Regions from separate parts of the Homo sapiens genome. Here all the other regions are linked to region 3. The links come from fine-mapping of genetic effects on gene expression. A gene starts in region 3. Each other region holds a variant in brackets. All regions are shown on one strand. Distances are from middle to middle.

What was found. PIP is the estimated chance that this variant, and not a neighbour inherited with it, causes the effect.
Region 1: its variant is fine-mapped to the expression of ARLN in monocytes after Pam3CSK4 (Quach 2016, PIP 0.95). The same link has a PIP of 0.9 or more in monocytes after LPS.
Region 2: its variant is fine-mapped to the expression of ARLN in whole blood (TOPMed, PIP above 0.99). The same link has a PIP of 0.9 or more in blood mononuclear cells.

What each region holds. Positions count from the first base shown.
Region 1 is chr4:119,022,024-119,030,689 of GRCh38, reverse strand. It overlaps SYNPO2 (synaptopodin 2), which reads right to left. Exons shown (of 5, transcript NM_133477.3): 2 at 7,109-7,260; 3 at 3,252-4,063; 4 at 1-845. Among named protein-coding and RNA genes, the nearest start is that of SYNPO2-AS1, 42 kb to the right of the region's middle. The variant T/C (reference allele first, on the strand shown) is at 4,657.
Region 2 is chr4:119,501,056-119,506,055 of GRCh38, reverse strand. PDE5A (phosphodiesterase 5A) reads left to right here. Exons shown (of 21, transcript NM_001083.4): 17 at 124-201; 18 at 1,457-1,520; 19 at 3,401-3,475; 20 at 4,803-4,886. Among named protein-coding and RNA genes, the nearest start is that of LINC01061, 93 kb to the right of the region's middle. The variant C/G (reference allele first, on the strand shown) is at 2,704.
Region 3 is chr4:119,297,909-119,302,908 of GRCh38, reverse strand. It overlaps ARLN (allregulin), which reads left to right and starts at 2,264. Exons shown (of 2, transcript NM_001001701.4): 1 at 2,264-2,573; 2 at 4,130-5,000. The coding sequence starts at 2,374. The coding sequence ends at 4,130. RefSeq lists enhancers at 2,291-2,520, 2,621-2,670.

The sequences.
Region 1 (8,666 bases), 270 kb after region 3:
ACTTGAAACCCCTCTGGAGAAGGCGTCAGGGGGAGGAGTGACTGCAGAGTAAGGTGGAGGTGCAGGAAAGTCAGCAATGGGACTCGTCATGTTTCGGGTTGGCGAGAAGGGGGTAGCTGGCTGATTCACAGACCCTGGGAAGGGTTTGGCCGTTCTATTCATGGGGACCATCCTCTGGATGTTTGCTGTCTCAGATGTCCCACTGAAGCCATTCTGTTGGGGAACATGGCCAAGACCATGACTCACCTCGATGTAGCTTTTGCTCACAGAGCTCTGCGTTCTTACCGACTCTTCCTCCTTTCTTTGGTAAGAAGTCGTGGTTCTCAGGCCATCGGTCTGGGCAGCATCTTGTTCTCTGCTTGGCGTTCCACCTACCTTGTCCTCTTCTTTTTGGGCTGTGATCTGATCCATTCTCTCCCTCCTCTTGGCAAACATGAGGGCTCCCTTGCCTGTGGTGTCTGGTAACATCTCCATCTTGTCCCCTCTGTTCAGTTTCTTTTCAATGTCCACCAGTCCAGAATCCCAGTCAAAGTTCACAACTTGTGTGTTGTCGTCAACGTCAGACAATAACTCTTCATCCACCTCTGATTCGCTTGCACCAAGAAATGCTACTTCACATGTATCCTCCTTGTCACCTTCTTCCTCCTCGTCCGCCTCTCGCTCAAGCTCGCCAGTACCGTAGCTAACTAGGGTGTATTTCCTGGCCCTCCGACGTCGCTTCTTAAACATCAACACCCCCTTGGAGTTGGGGTTGGGAGCATCCGTTAGAAGAAGGGCAATGCTTTTGCATTTAGATTTTGCTTCCTTCACTTGTTTTTCTGACAGGCTTTCACTCCTCCTGAGCCCTAGGGAAAGCAAAAAAAAAAAAATTATATTGAGCTGATGAGTTCAAGGAAGACACCACAGCAACTCAGAAATGAACTCTCCTGGGGGAAAATAAATATGTAAAAAATTGCCATTGAGTACAGAATTTTGAAGGAATCCAACACATTTCTTTTTCTTATTTCTCTTAACATGTTTCCTTCTACAATAATATACTGTTCTATTTGTTTACATAAAAATATTTTATATATGCTGATTAGAATATATGTTTCATACATTTGTTTCTCTAGAGATCCTTCCACTTTAATAATAAAAACTGGCTAGTAAATGTCAATTAATAGGATAAAATTAGAATTAAGAAGGACATAATTTAAAGACATAATATTTTCTGAAAAACAAGATGAGACATATCTCATACTTCCATATTTTAAAATAAAGTGTCAATATAAAACTGTTTCCAGGAATCTTAAAAAGGGAGGAGCGTCCCAAGAAGATGTTTTAAAATTTTCTAAATGTTTTAATGTAATGAATTTAGCTATTTAGGTTTTCTTCTTTCTCTTTTTTCTTTTTTTACCCTGACAACCACCCCAAATCTTTCCACTCACAGCTACTGGATTAATATAAATTCAAAACACTGAATTAATCATTGAAGGTACTGAATCAATAATTAAAATTCAAAATATGACATTATTGTAAATACATATAAGAAACTCTAGCTACAAAGTTTTCTAGACAGATTTGTTTGTAAATGTATTGCTATTTTGGAAATACAATATTACTTTCCTTGCAGCAAGAATAAACCTTGGAGAAATTTAAAAATTGACTTGTGACCCACTTAACTGTGTAAAAACTGATGCAGAAATTAAGTCATTTAAAACAAGAATATGATTTTTATTTTATAAAAATAAAAATATTTAAAATTTTCTTTCATTATTACTATTATAAAAAAGAAATGGGTGGCAAATTATAGCAACTAAACATATAGCATCTATCATTTATAATTTATAGTTATATCATATTTTCAATGATAATGACTGTGAGTCCCCTAAATTTTTTAATTCCTCAAAACAGTTAAGTGGAAAATTAAGAAAAAATTTTTGACTATTTTATGATTGAAAATTAGCTCTTTTTGTCACAGACTTAATGGTTAATTTTTTTTAAATAAAATATAATCCAAGGAAATAATTTTATAATATGATTACAGGCATTTACTGGTGATCGAATTTTCTAGAGAAAAATAGTTGAAACTGTGGTTATTACTAAATAGAATTCCTTTTTTGACTAGTGTTATACAACTTATTAAATTGACAGTCACAGTTGCACAGTTGCTGCTAACTTCACTGCCAACATGTAAAGTATGTGAATGGTGTCTCAATACTCTTGTTTAATATGCTATAAATGTGAAGATGGCCTACAGATGCTTAAAGTATAAGGAATGATTAACAGCACTTGCCAATAAAGCTACAAATGGTTATGCTAAAAATATGCTTTGAAAGGAATAACAATAGGTTAGAAGACTTAATATCCTACTTTGAATAACCGAATTCATTGCCATTGTGTATCATATATACAGTCAAGTGCCTTTGCCTGTCAGCCTTTACATCCTCAAATAAAATTCCAAAATTAGTAAAAAAAAAAAAAAAAACAAACAAAAATAAACGTGAAATAAAACAATAGAAATCCTAACACCTAACTGCAATTCTTATCCCAATTCTCCTTTCTGTCTTCTCTCCCCTGGGTAAAACAAAATGCCATACAAAGCACTGAATTTAAATATATTTTATGTTTGGAGACATTTAAATGCCTCCACATGGCCCTGGAGACTGACTTCTGTGTCTAGAAGGTAGATGAAACACTTTGCAGTCAAATGAAGACTTACACAACGGAGAGGATCATGTAACTGCTCAGTATACACATGTCCTTGTCTGTCAAACTCACTTCTGCAAGCATCATCAAGCTGCACAATGATTTTTTTTCAAAACAAGGATCTGCTTTTGATATCAATGGTAGAGCTTTTATTTTAAAGACACCTCTCAGTAGCAGACTCAACAGTTTTTGACATTTAAACTGAGTCCACATGACTTCAAGTGCTTTCTTATGCTATTTTAACATGAACTATTTCAACTGTCTGAAACAAAATGAACAGGCACATTGACAATATTATTTTCTTTAACAGTTCCTGTGCCTTTGGGGATAAAAAGAAATTCATGAAAAATGTTTAAATCTATATGAAGTTCGGACTTATTGCTTCCTATTTAGAAATTGGTATTCTCCACAATTTCACATTTGTGATTTTGTGCATTAATTAAATATTTCTTTAAGCCAATGAGAAACATAAGAAAAATCTTGCTGAAAAACTCATGCAAGCAAAGAAGCAGCAAAATGCCCCCAACTCCCAAGCCCCTTCTGAAAGCCCAGGCAGAACTTACGTGCATGCCGCGCTCGGTGCTTGTGAGGTCTGCTGTGATCTTTTTCCGAGCGTGGATCTTCTCCCTGCTCTGTGCCTTCTGATGAGACGGCAAAGGATACCAGAGAAGGAGGTGCTTCTGACTGCCCTCCTTCCACTGGAGAATCCACACACTCCTTTCCTGCCTGAAGCCTGCACCCTTCTGTCTTCTGCCTGTCAGAGCAGTCGAGGATCACTTCCACCCGGGGCAGTCCCGCATCTCCTGCTTCACTTTCCTGGATCACTCTCAACTCTCTGCCACTGGAGATCTGGATTATCTTGCTGGACCTCAGGAAAGGGTCTGCTTTCTCATTAGTAGGGATCGAATTTATGTGGACAATCCTGTCATGTGACAAGTTAGGGTCTGGGTCAGGAGACTTAGATTTTTCAGCTCCCGGGAGAGCCACTAAAGGGCCACTAGCGCCCTTATGTCTCTCCTGTGAAAGGGACAGTTGCAGCTCAACCACAGGCCCAGGCTGTACCGCTTCTACCTTCTCCCTTAAGATCAGCTCTTCTGCCACGCGTCCTCTTTGGGAGTCAGGCATTTGGGGAGCCCTTTGGTAGCTCGGGCCTGTTTCTTCTTTCAAGCTGCCTGCACAGTCGGGACCACTTCTTTGGTTCTCAGCTAGGGGAACTTCAGTCTTGACAGGGGCGAGGAAGAATTCTGTGCACTGGGTCTTTGTGGCCGGTCGAATCTGCAGGGTGGTACTTTCCACATAACCCCCATGTGTGAGATGCTCGAGGTTTTTGTTTTCATTTTCAGATATCAAAGCCTCACTTATTCCACTGGATGGTCTGCACACAGAAAAATCATTCCAGACACTTAAATCAGACTATGTTACATCTGCCAAAGAACTTCCTGACACTTTTGTGATGTCTAATATGTGATATAGTCAAAATATTTTCTTCTAAATGTCAGTTGCAACATATTTGAAAACAGAAGGTGGCAACATGTTCATATTATTACTTAAAGAGATACCAAATAAACTTTTTTAAAAGCACAAAGAAACTCTTACACAAGATTATGAAACCTGAATCCATCCTAAATTCAGCTTTTATTTTTAAAAAACTACATGGATCCCGTTTATCTGTAAGTACTTGGAATCTGGGTATCTCTTATAATGAGTTTGCTAGAATGTGACAAAGCATTTCAATGTCTTATTGACTAAGTTTTGGTCTAGACATTATGAAGTCACATAAACATATCCAGCACCTTCAGATCAATCTTAACTTACAGATAACTCAACTAGTCCTTTTAGAGGCTGTGCTTTCTTGAAAGGAATGAAATAGAAGCTGTTTTTTAAGCCCCAGTGAGCATGTGTTTCGTAATAAGTGGACCCAGCCCAGTACTCTTGCGTAAAGAGAAATCCTTTCCGTGCTGCAATGAA[T/C]CATTAAGTCATGGAGTATTTATAATCTGAGATGTCTCCCTTTCTTCTATTTGGATCTGTTTCTTGGAGCATTTTCTTTTTAGGATATCTGAAGTCAAACTGTTCCTTTATCTCTCAGCTAAGGAGCCTAGAGCTGTACACCACAGCTCTTTGATTTTGATCTTCCCAGTTGTCTGTGCAAATTTGGGTTTCTGAGAAGAAGCAATGTCAGTTTAAGAGTTAAATAACTTCTTTCTGAAACTCTAATTTAAACTGTAAATGTTTTTAGAGGTATTATTCACAGAACAGCTGTAGGAAATGCCTTCATTTTTTATATTTGTATTTTTTTTAATTTTGGAAGCAGCATAATTATCTTTGCCCCTTTCCTCCTTCCTTAAAAGACAGTTATGACTCATGCAGGCACGTCAGCTGAAGGGCGTGAGCTTCTACTTGGATTCTACTCAAAGGAATTTACCTTAGAATTTATGTGGTAGTGCAATTTCCGACCAATGCTCAAAATACTTACTCCTACCTTTGCTTTCAACTGCATTTGGCAAAACAAAACTAAACAAAATGAAAACAAACTAACAGTTAAACAAAATGCACCTTTCTCTATACGCAAGTAATTGGAAAAGCTTCCCTGTAATACAGTATTTATACAACATTATAATATCGTATTAAAAAAGCATGATGTTAGCAAATTAGATCATTATTATGTAGAAAATGTTAAATACATTGTTAAACTGAATTTGAGGGTACCAAAAGGTCAGAGAGTTTTAATTTAGGAAGGCCTTGGGATGGAAGTAGATTAAATCACTTTGAATAACGTTAGCAATCAATTGTGAAGCTGAGAAGAGAATAGTTTCAATTCATGCCAGCCTTGTAGACCAATACAGACAAATGGCCAGATAAATATTAACATTTATCAGCAGCTGAAGTAAAATAAATAGACATGAGTAAATATCATAAAAGCATGAGCGAATAAAGCTTTATGCCTTAAAACATTCATTTCCCATCAGTCTACATAGGTATTCATCAAGTCCACAATTTATGTGTCACAATTATAGAATTTTTAAAATCTTATTTTAAGAACATTCAAGATAATAGAGATGGAATGTTAAAGGAGTTATTTTAAAATAGTCTTACTGAGCTATCTCTGGGCAATAGTTCAGGAAAAGTAAAAACACTTGTCCTCTACTGATAGATGACAGTGATATGAGTGACAGAAATATTTATTGCAGGAAACAATATTCAGATATTTAAAATAGTGGTAGTGGTGGTGATGATAATAATTGCTTTTGACTTGATTTTCAATTGAGATTCCACTTTGAATCCTACCAATTAGTTACTTACTTTGTAATTTTTTTTATTTTATAAATTTAATTATGTATTAGTAAATTATGTATTTTATAAACTTATTTTCTCTTCATAACATGAAGGAAGGATTCTAAGGCCTTAAACACTGAGTTTGATGGGTAAATATTTAGATTATAAGAATAATGCTAGATTTCCATTGTTGTCTCAAGATTTTGGCCATAGTGAGTTCATTTTCATCCCGGAACAGAATCATACTGAATGATTAGCAGAGGGGTAACTGTGCGTAGTGTTTCTGCAGAGTTGAGGAAAAACCTGGAGGACCTTGAGGTTCATCTTGAGATGTCCTCTGACATCTTCCTAAAAGCTGCTCTCCAGGAAGCCAAAGCTTTCCTTTCTGGATTCATTATCATGCAATAGCCAGAGCTTCCGTTGCAAAATCAGTATGGATTGTACTGTGATTTGTACACCATAAAAATGTCAATGCTGTAGTTTTCCTTGTTATTGTCCTCATTGTTTTCTTTTGTTTTTTACATTTAAAGGTTTCTTTTATATTGTTAAACAACTATGTGGGGATGGTGGTATTTGAAGAGATTGAATTCCCAAATGACCTGTGTTGGTCGTGCAAAAACCTTATTCTAATCATCTGCTTTTGTCCATCCTCAAATATTGGTTTTACTGGAGAAATCCGGCTGCTTGTAAGTTTTTGTTGTTGTTTCTCTTTTCTGTCTCTTAAGCATCCTTTTAATGAAAAATTGTACAGTTTAATGGTCTAATATTTAAACATTTTTAATTCATCTGTGCATCTGATAATTACAATTGAGTGATTCTGATCCATCACAAAATCTTGACCTATCAAAGAAATATTAAGTTATGCTCAATATACTGAGCTTTCTAAGGAAGGAGCCTAAAATACCTAAGATTTTCAACAAAGTGCTTGAAACAAGCATTTTCAACTTAATTCTCAATTAACCAGAAAGTTTGGTTGACTAGAATTGACTATTTTTCAAACACAGTGGTGTTTCTGTTTAACTATACCTAACCTTCTACAAAGCACCCCTAATTTCTCCATAAATGACAAGTTATATATGTAGTAAAAGCTATAATCATTCCCATGTAGCTTCAAGAGAAAATACATATTCCAGCAAATCTGTTGTACCTTTTGATGAGCATTTGGAGAGAGTCTGTTATGCTTTCCATGAGCTTGATGACTTCAGGGTAGGTGAGATCTGCACAAGGGTTGCCATTGATGGAAACCACTTCATCTCCCTCACAGAGCCCAGACCCAGAGGCTTTGCTCTGATTTCGAATCTGAGTGGAGTAAAAAAAGAAGACATAGTAGAATGATATAATTTGTAAAAAGCAAGCCACCATCTCTGAGAAACAAATCTGTCAACAGTAACACCAGCCCTGAATTTTAATTCACCTGTTAACCTGTAAGACCATTTAAATACTTCTTACCACCTTATGAACACACACACAGCCACACACTTTATCATGTACCATAATATGAACATTTAATTCATAGCATTGTAAGTAAACAGGAAAAAAGAAAGTAAATAAATCAATGTAAAGGTACCAGACAGAATTAAAGAAATAAAAAATAGAGAAGAGTGAAAAAAGATGTTAAAGGCTTACATTGATGGCATTAAAAATAATTATTCAGGCCAGGCGTGGTGGCTTATGCCTGTAATCCCAGCACTTTGGGAGGCCAAGGCGGGTGGATCACGAGGTCAGGAGTTCGAGACCAGCCTGGCCAACATGGTGAAACCCCGTCTCTACTAACAAGTACAAAAATTAGCTGGGCATGGTGGTGTGCGCCTGTAGTCCAAGCTACTCAGGAGGCTGAGGCAGGAGAATTGCATGAGCCCGGGAGGTGGAGGTTGCAGTGAGCCAATATCGCACCATTGTACTCCAGCCTGGGCAACAGAGCAAGACTCTGTCTCAAAAATAAAATAAAATAAAATAAAATAAAATATAAAATAAAATAAAATAAAACATAAAATAAAATAAAATTAAAATAAAATAAAATATAAAATAAAATAAAATACAATTAAAATAAAATAAAATAAAATAAATAATTCAGGCCAGGCACAGTGGCTGATGCCTATAATCCCAGCACTTCGGGAAGCTGAGGCAGGTGGATCTCTTGAGCTCAGCAGTTTGAGACCAGCCCGGTCAATATGGTAAGACCCTGTCTCTAAAAAAAAAAAAAAAAAAAAAAAAAACCTACAAAAAATGCAAAAATTAGCCCGCTTGGTGGTGCATGCCTGTGATCCTAGCCACACAGGAGAAGTGGGAGGATTGTTTGAGCCAGGAGGTGGAGGTTGCAGTGAGCCAAGATCATGCCACTGCACTCCAGCCTGGGGGACAGAGCAAGACCCCGTCTTAAAACATTATTATTATGATGATGATAATTCCACATTGTAAGGTTTTACTCCAGTGAGAAAGTAACCTCCTGCATTACAATAAATTTTAAAATCCTTCCCATTGCCAAGGTGAATGAAACGCCATGACTATAAGAAGGAGGTACAGGACGGGGCAACTTGTTTGAGGAGAGAGCTGTATAGCTAAATGGACTGATAAAAACCATCCCAGTATAGTGGGGCACCAGGGAGCCTGGATATTAGGGAATATGTCAAAGAGAGAAATGCTTCATTGAAATCAGCTACTCCAGGCATGGTACTAAGCAAACTTTAGCAAAAAAGAAAGAAAAA
Region 2 (5,000 bases), 200 kb before region 3:
TAAGATGGGAAAAAAAATCAGAGGTTTTTTTTCACCAAAATTTAGTCCATGAGTCTTTGTGGACCAAAGGGATAAGACCCTGGGTACTCATTATAACTAACAATTTTTTTTTAAACATTGTAGGAGGCGAGGAGAATTTTTTGAACTTATAAGAAAAAATCAATTCAATTTGGAAGATCCTCATCAAAAGGAGTTGTTTTTGTAAGTAGGTTTACTATCTTTAAAGCTGAAGTTTTTTACCCAGTTAATTTTCTCACTATTTTTTCCTCACTGTTAGTTTTTATTGCAATTATTTGTTACAATATGATGATCTTAAAAGCGGTCAGATTTCTCCAGAGGGTTGTACAAAGAGTAAATTTGAATATTTACTTGAAAAGAAATGCATTTGCAAATCCAAGTGAATGAACTGTTCCTTTGTTCTAGAAAAACCTTTAAAATGTGGTAGAGTATCAATATATGGCTATAGGTTTCCCTTATTCATTTTCCTAATTCATTGTAATGGAAGTGCTGAAAATGGAATTATAAATGTTGTGGAAGTAAGATATAGCTGCAAAATGTTTACTTCTCTTAAAGAAAATCTGAAAAGGTAGAGCAGTGAGGTCAGGGTCCAGACATGGAAGGAATACTATTAAGTCTCTATGATTAAAACAGTTTGATATTGGTGGCAGACCAGTGGAACACAGCTGAAAATCTAGAACTGCATAAGACATATAGTGTATAATAAAGATAACATTTCCAGTGACTGGAGGAAAGAGAGAGATAAGTGGATAACCAAATGGAAAAAGACAAAATTGGATCTACTCTACAGACTTAAATTCCAACTGAAGCATAGAGTTCAATGTAGAGAATTAAATCATACAAGCATTAAATAAAAATATAGATGGATTCTTCTATAACCTAGGAGTGAGAAAACTTTCCTAACTATAATTCAACATGCAGAAACAATAAAGGAGAAAGCTGAAAAACATGATTAATCATTCAAAGGCTTTTCATTTAGAAGTTACCATGTGTGTTGAGTGAATTAGGATGACCTACTATAATTTCTGATATAAGACTTTTATCAGTATGATACCTGATGTTGTACTTTAATGGTTATTAGTAATCAATGTACTTTCATCATACTGTCGCTGAGAATGGAATACTAAGGTGACAAAAATAATAAAAGCAGGCAAGATTTTACCCAAGGTTAATAATTTTTCAGTCTGCCAATCTGGAGCTAAATGAGGCAGTTTGAGGACAAATTCCAAAAGTTCAAAGGGAAACTGAAACAATGATGCTCTGTTATCAATGTATTAGTTAGACTTTCATATAAATTGTTTCTTTTTCTTTGGTCTTTATAAACTGCCATTTCCATTGTTTAGAGGGTTTTAACTTTTTTTTATTAGTAACTATTTACTGAGGGTATATAATAACACAAAAGTAAATAGGAGTTTTGGGTTTCTTTTTTCCATAACAGGGCAATGCTGATGACAGCTTGTGATCTTTCTGCAATTACAAAACCCTGGCCTATTCAACAACGGGTATGTTACTTAGTGACAATAACAATAATTAAAAAGTCAAAATAACATTCTACCCAGCAATCCCACTACTAGGTATCTACCTAAAGAAAAATAAATGACTATATAAAAAAGACACTTATATGTTCATCACAGCACCATTTATTATATAATAGCAAAGTCATGGAACTAACCTAACTGTCCATCAACAGTTGATTAGATAAAGAAAATGTGGTACATATGCACCATGGAATACTATGCAGGCATAAAAAGAATCAAGTCATGTCCTTTGCAGCAACATGATTGGAGCTGGAGGCCAATTATCCTTAATGAACTAACTCAGAAACAGAAAATCAAACACTGCACATTCTCACTCATAAGTGGGAGCCAAACAGTAGGTACACACGGACATAAAGATGGAAATAATAGACACTGGGGACTCCAAAAGGGGGAAAGGTGGGAAAAGAACAAGGGGTGAAGAACAACCTACTGGGTACAATGTTCACTGTTTGGGTAATGGGTATACTAGAAGCCCAGTCCCCACCAATACACAATATACATATATACCAGACATGCACATATACCCCCTAAATCTAAAATAAAAAAAATTTTTTTAAGTAAGTTTTTACTCTTAAAGGTAGCTTCTGAAGTAAGTATGGAATTTTTTTTGGAATTTTTAAGTAGTATTAAAAACAGATAATTGGACATACAAAGGCTTTTCTTTTTAGAAGATGCATTTGCACATAATATTTGTAAGATATATTAAGAAAGAGAGCATCTACATTAGCACAGTTTTCATTTCAGTGTGAAAGGCTGAGCATACTTAATGCAAAAACCCAAAATGTTCCAAAATTCAAAGCATTTTGAGTACTGACATGACACTTAAAGAAAATGCTCATTGAACCAGCATTTTAGGTTTCAGATTTTTGGATTTGGAATATAACTTATACTTCTGGCTTACTTGTTTCTTAAGGTCATCCCTTTAATGACCTTGAAAATTAGAAGAAGCAAAATTACTTTTCTTATGGTTAGCCTTCTACGCTGTGCCTCAGCTCTAAATAGACATTAACAAGTAGAACATAGAGATTTCTGGGGCTTGTAGATGTAGGAAGTATTGATATAAGATGTCGAGAAAGTTCTGAATGGAGCCTGTTACCAGGAGGCTAGAAAAAAATCCTTCCCTCTAAGTAACTGCTATAATGTTTTG[C/G]AGAGGCAATACAGGCTCAGAAAAAGTGATGGATGTCCATGCAGTGACATATATATTGTGTTTTTGTTTTTCAAGATTTCATTTTGAGTCCGTAATAAATATGCTATTTAGGATTGTTGACAGCCTGCTGTTGGTCAAGACTCCGGGCTGCTTAGTCAGGGAGCCTAGTAACTCTTCCTACAGGCTCATCTCATGAAACAGACATGCCGAGAAAACAAGATCAAAAACTCATTCTCCATGTGCCAAAGCCAACACGCCATAAGCACTTAGGTGATCTTTACCTACCTTCCTGCCCATAATAAACAGGACTATATGCCTATTTATTTCTAACCAGGTAAGAGAATAGAAGAGGGAAGAATGTGTCTTCATATATCCTTTCTCTCCCCTGAATCAAACCCTTGTACATACTGTTTTATGGGGAGAAAATAAATGAAGAAAACATTTTTAAATAAAATTAAAAGGGAAAAATGTTGGAAGCTACCAAAGACAGAGAGATGTACCTAAGTGAAAAAGAGTATAATGTAATAGTTAAGAGAGCACGCTTTGGACATGGACTACTTGTCTTCGGGTATCAAGCTGCTGCTTATTTGCTATAAAATGGAGATATACAGCTCCTAACAGGGCCTTCATTCACGGTCTCTGTTTTAAAGAATGATATGCTTTTCATTGTCAAAACTGAGTCTGTTATTTATTTCAGATAGCAGAACTTGTAGCAACTGAATTTTTTGATCAAGGAGACAGAGAGAGAAAAGAACTCAACATAGAACCCACTGTAAGTATGAAACCTTGTTGGTAGGAATTATTCAAATTGTTTTTTTTTTAATTGTAGACTCCTTTTTATGGCTCTATGGGATCTTTCCTTAGGACCACAATTTCTCATTTTATTTTTTAAAACTTTTTTCTCATTGGAAGAATTATACATGTTCATTACAGAAAGCAAAACCAATAAAAGGCATAATAAAGACTCTTGGGTTCATCATATTGTATCAGTGTTCTTTGTAATTTGTTTTTTTCCGCTTAAGTATTAGAAACCACTTTTCATTTTAACAAATATTCTTATGTATTATCATGATTACATGAAATCGATGTAACCATAATTTACCTACGTCCCTTGGTGTAATATTTGCAGTGTTCACTATTACAAACAGCACTGTGATAAACATCCATCATAGATGTTTCACTCCTACTCCTTGGTTCTCGCCATCAAAAGAATTTAATAGAGAAGCTGTGGCTGACAGAGAAAGGAAGGAGAGATACCAAAAGAAACATGGAGGAAAGATGACCAGATGTCATGCCACCACCACAGTCTCCCCAGTTTTCTCAGCATTCTACTTGTTTACTCCTTTGTTCAAAGTTCTCCTCAGAAGTGTGTTCAGAGCAGTGTTTCATCTATCATAGATGTTTATCACAGTGCTGTTTGTAATAGTGAACACTGCAAACATTACACCAAGGGAATAGATAAACCGCCAAACCTCATTCTTCATTATCTTGTTAGCATAAATTCCCAAAGTTGTCGTGTTGAAGGGCAAACAGAATTTAAAGGTCTTTGATACATACTGCCTTTTTACATAGAGTATGGATCTCAGATACAAGTAAAGATTCCTCTCAGCCCACTTCTGTTTTTTGGAATGAGTTTCCTTGAAATAAAACATAAGAGTTTTCCTCTTTTTTTCTTTTTGTATTAGTTGCTGTCTGACCTTCCTAGGCTAACCCACTGATTCACCTTTCTAGAGCCAGCTTTGTGTTCTTTAAATAAATGCACACAATGGCTCATGCCTGTGATGCCAGCACTTTGGGAGGCCAAGGCAGTCAGATCCCTTGAGGTCAGGAGTTCTAGACCAGCCTGGCCAACATGGTGAAACCCTGTCGCTAATAAAAATAAAAAATCAGCCAGGCGTGGTACTGCACACCTGACTAGGGAGGCTGAGGCAGGAGAATAGCTTAAACTTGGGAGGTGGAGGTTGCAGTGAGCTGAGATGGTGCCACTGCACTCCAGCCTGGACAACAGAGTGAGACTCCATCTCAAAAAATAATAAAGTAATAACTAACTAAATAAATAAATGCACATCTGTGTGTCTGGTCTGTATTTGTATTTTCAGGATCTAATGAACAGGGAGAAGAAAAACAAAATCCCAAGTATGCAAGTTGGGTTCATAGATGCCATCTGCTTGCAACTGTATGAGGTATTTATATGAAAACTACTAGACTTGCTAAACTTGGACTGTTGTGAATTAGAACCTAAAATTGAAGAGATTAATATTAGGCGCCTATATTTTGCTTCTAAATCAAGAAATAAA
Region 3 (5,000 bases):
GTTAAAGCAAAATTCATCATCATCTCCCTCCTGAAAACTTATTGCACTTGAAGTTCAGAAGATCTGTAACGTCTTCTTAAAAACACTTAGCTGTCTTTGGCCTGATGGTTATAGCATTTTCATACACCACCTTCTCCACCCCAGCTCAATCAGATTAATTGTGCTGACAGAATTATGGAAGTGTTGGATCATGGTTGCAGTGCAATGATTCAATCTGTAGTCCCTGGTGCATATTTTTCAGTTGAACATGTGAAGTAGAAAGTTCAAGGTGGTTGGACAAGTGCCGAGGTATTGCATGACTGACAGTGAACCTGGATTTCAGTACAGTACTTTTTAAAATTTAAATTGCTTTGATAATGGCAAATGCCAACTGAGCAAGGTGGCTCATGCCTGTAATCCCAGTACTTTGGGAAGTCGAGGCAGAAGGATCACTTGAGGCCAGTAGTTCAAAATCAGCCATAACACACTCTAAACTCATTTCTGTAATGTGGAATAATCAACAATCAGTGGGACTTTTACAAGGGTAAAGTCGGAAATAGAATCTTTCAACTGAATTTAGTTTAAATAACCCCTCCTTATTTGCACTAGTTGCTCTTCCAAGTCTGGCAGACGTTCCTGACTCTAGAACAGATCATACTGTCAACATCCCCTCATGATGAGCATGTGACTCTGGGCCAAAGACAAGTTTAAAACCATTTCAAGACCTGTTCAGTTTATGTCATGCTTCTTCAACACTAATAATCTCAATAATTTTTTATCAATCCTACTTCAATAACTAGGAGTAATTGATCCTACCTTGTCAGCGAGAAGAATGCTTCCATCTCTGGTAGAGGCAATTGTTTATTTGCCTTTCCTAATTTTTGTAAAGATTCAATGCCACTTAAGCCCAGGGTCTTTTTGTCTACTACCATCAGACAATCTGTATTACAGCACACAATCTAATTAATTCTCAGGTAATGGCCCTCTCATCCCAGAATCTACAAAGCATTTTTCTTGAAAGGTCGTATACTATCTTTGTCTCTAAAACCTGGCAATTGATTTGGAGGCAAATTGGAGCAAGGTTAGGAAGCTATGGAACAGCTTTAAGAGTGCTGGATTTGGAGTTAATTTTAGGCTTTATAATTTTTTTAGTAACCTTAGACAATTCACTCCTTTTGTGTCTCATTTCCTAATTCTATAAGATGGAGTACTGCCCCTTCAAAGAGGTTTTACGACGATTTAATGACTTTGTAAAAACACAACTACAGTCTTATCTCCATTTACTATGCACCAAGAGAACCACTTATATGTCTGGGTGCCCGTTATTTTCTGAACAATTCAGGAATCATAATGTGACAAGAAAGAGAATATTTGAAATTGGACCCACGAGGTAAAATCCAGGCAGTATAGGTCATTTTCTTCCTGCTAGCATTCTGTTCTTGCTGAGGCTCACACTCAAAGTCAAATAACCTTTGGGTTATTCTTCCCACCCCCATTTCCCCCCAGATGGAGTCTCGCTCTGTTGCCCAGGCTGGAGTGCAATAGTGGCACGATCTCAGCTCACTGCAACCTCCGCCTCCCGGGTTCAAGCGATTCTCCTGCCTCAGCCTCCCGAGTAACTGGGATTACAGGCGCCTGCCACCACGCCCGGCTAATTTTTGGATTTTTTTTTTTTTTTTTTTTTTTTTAGTAGAGACGGGATTTCAGCATGTTGGCCAGGCTGGTCTCGAACTCCTTACCTCAGGTGATCCGCCCGCCTCGGCCTCTCAAAGTGCTGGGATTACAGGGGGGCGCGGCCAGGTTATTCTTAAACCCACTCCCTTGAAGTACCTGCAAAATGCTCACGTGCTGCTCTCTGGCCCGTTTGGAAACTCAGTCCCGTGAGTAGGACGTCCACCTCATTGGTGGTGTTTAAATATTAAGTGTCAAATGCTAGAGACAGTACAAAACCCACCAGAGGGGGCCTTCCTAACACGTTGGCATAAGGATCCAAACGGAATACGGGGATAGGAGAGGTGACCTCGTGCAGTTTCAGGGAGGAGTCCATCACCTGACTGGACTGGGCCTTTCAGGGGGACGAGAACGTATTTCTTCCAACGAAACCTGAATAACCAGCTATCTGCCTGGGACGCCGCGAGGCAGAAGTAGGCGGGCCCATTGACTTAGTGTCAAGGCGGAGGCCGCGCTTCATGCCAGCGGTCACGGAGGCAGCGGAAAGCCGAGCCAGGCGCCTGCGCGCTGGGAAGAGTAGGTTCAGAGTGCATTCCGGAACCCGGGGCGCGGCGCACTGCGCAGGCGGCCGGACTCCGCTCAGTTTCCGGTGCGGCGAACACCAAAGTCCGGGAACTTAAGCATTTTCGGTTTCTAGGGTTGTTACGAAGCTGCAGGAGCGAGATGGAGGTGGACGCACCGGGTGTTGATGGTCGAGATGGTCTCCGGGAGCGGCGAGGCTTTAGCGAGGGAGGGAGGCAGAACTTCGATGTGAGGCCTCAGTCTGGGGCAAATGGGCTTCCCAAACACTCCTACTGGTTGGACCTCTGGCTTTTCATCCTTTTCGATGTGGTGGTGTTTCTCTTTGTGTATTTTTTGCCATGGTGAGTATCTCGAATGCAAAATTGGGGTGGTAAGGAGCTTAGAGATCATTTGCTCGCTTTTGGGCGGGGAGGGGACTGAATTCCAGAGAGTTTATATATGTCCAAGATCACACAGCTGGTGAGTGGCGCAGTCGGGTGGGTGGGGGAGAAGGACTAGGAGTAAAATGTCCTTCTTTAGCACGTCCGTGGGAGTCTCCAAAGAAGTGTGGAGAAAACTTGGCGTCATATTTTCTCATGATTTGGAATGAAACCAGCTAGGCTTGAGTTCCTGCAGCACCATGAAGCGACCGGAGAAGTTATTTCGCCTTTTGGAGCTTTATTTTTTCATCTGCCATTTGGGACCATTAGTAACCCAGGTCATAGGGGTGTAGTGAAGATTGAGATCGTAGTGATTTGCATGTTGCCTGGCAGTAGTAAGTGCTCAACGAAAGCTATTTTTACTATACAGCTGTTTAACCATGAGCAGACCACGCAGCTGTCTCAAACTAAACATGTCCAAAACTGAACTCTTAACAGCTTCTTACCCAAATTTACTTGCCTTGCAGCGTTACCATTTCAGTAAACGCCAACTTTATCCACCGTTACCTCCCAGAAACCTGAGACACTTTGCCCTTTTCTTACACACATCCACATATCCTAAAACACCAAGTTACAAAATTCTGTAGAGTTTACTTGTAAAACCCATGCTCTCCATTTTCATCGCCACTCGCTCTGAAAAGACAATTCTGGCAGAGGGTAAAGGAAGGGAACTTAAGAGAATAGGGCAGGAGGAAGCAGACACCAAATGGAGATGGTGTTAAGAGACAAGCTAAGGAGAAGCAGTGAGATGAAACAGGGCTCCTATGGGAGAAGAGCAGTGTAGCCCATCTAGACAGCTCTCCTGGACTTTGGAGTTGATTGTTCACTCACTGTTAACTCCTTAGTCACCATGCCTATGAGTTACTTCTGAAATTCTCACTTCTTGATAGGCAGTCACTTCTTCTACACCCCCAACCCCCATCCTATATTTTCACCAAGATTTGGGTGTCTTAAGCCTCACTGTCTCATTTCTTGGATGGTGTAGTAAGTTAGAGAAGACAGAGAGGGCCAGGCACAGTGGCTCACGCCTGTAGTCCCAGCTACTTGGGAAGCTGAAATAGGAGGATTGCTTGAGCTGGGGAGGTCGAGGCTTCAGTGAGCTGTGAACGTGCCACTATACTCCAGTCTGGGAGACAAAGCAAACCCTGTCTCAAAAAAAGGGGTGGCAGGGGAGCGAGAGGGATTAATGGGAGGATGGCAAAAGGGATAGGGATTTCTATAAAATTCTCTGTCAAGCCATTTGTAAAGGGAGAGTTTTACTCTCCCTCCCTGTTTTGGTAGAGACTGATAATCTCAAATACAGTGGGTTTTGTGTGTGTGTGTGTTTTTATGACCTGAACTTTCAGCTCTGGATAGAAAATAGAGGCCTTACAAGAAATGTTCTAGGCTTTTCTTTTTATCAATATGTAAATAGGCATAAAGTGTTAAAAACTGGGAAGATAAAGCACATATTGCTGACAAATACTTGCTTTTTACAGACTTGTTCGCTGATATCTAAATTAAGAAGTTGGTTCTTGAGTGAATTCTGAAAATGGCTACAAACTTCTTGAATAAAGAAGACAGGACTCTCAATAGAAGAATTTCACATCTCCAAGGGACCCTTCCTTTCATTTTACACTTTGTTACTAATTTGCAGAACTCTATTAATTGGGTAGGATTTCACCCATTCCTAGCTAAGTTCTTAAAATTAAACCCTTTGGTTCGTGTTTAAAAACTTTCAAACATCTGATGGCTTTACAGGGGCTGAATATAAAAGCATTTGTACTTAAAGGTCTTGTGTATTCATTAAGAAATATAGTAATGTCTTTTAATGTTTTAAGAGTTGATCAGGGTTTACTATGATGCAAGTAATAGGATGATTAATAAGGGAAGGTTTTTATGAATTCAAAAGTCAATTATTCAAAAGCAGGGAAAGATTTTGAGAGAGGGAACAAAGTATTCTTAGATTGCGTAGAAGCTGCTAGGTTCCAGTTTTAATTTTTAGGTTTAGTTGGACTCTGTTATGAAAAGATAGGTTATGGGTGGGCGACAGGTTGATACAGTCTTAGAAAAAGCAGGTAATATCAAAGTATTGGAAAGCTAGCATGCATGCCCTCTTACCTGGGTATCTTCCCCCTTTTTTCCTTTTAAACTCTTGAGCCTCCTATAACGAAGGATTATGTGTTTCAAACCTATTTTTTTTTTACTGTTTCATTAAGTGTGCTTGTGCCCAAAATATTTACTTGTATAATATCTGTAACTTGCTTAAATACTTCAGCAAAGTCAGCATATTTACTCATTCAACAAATATTTGAGCCAGGCATTATTTTAGACACAGCAGTGAACAAAACAAAAAGGCATTCTTGCCTT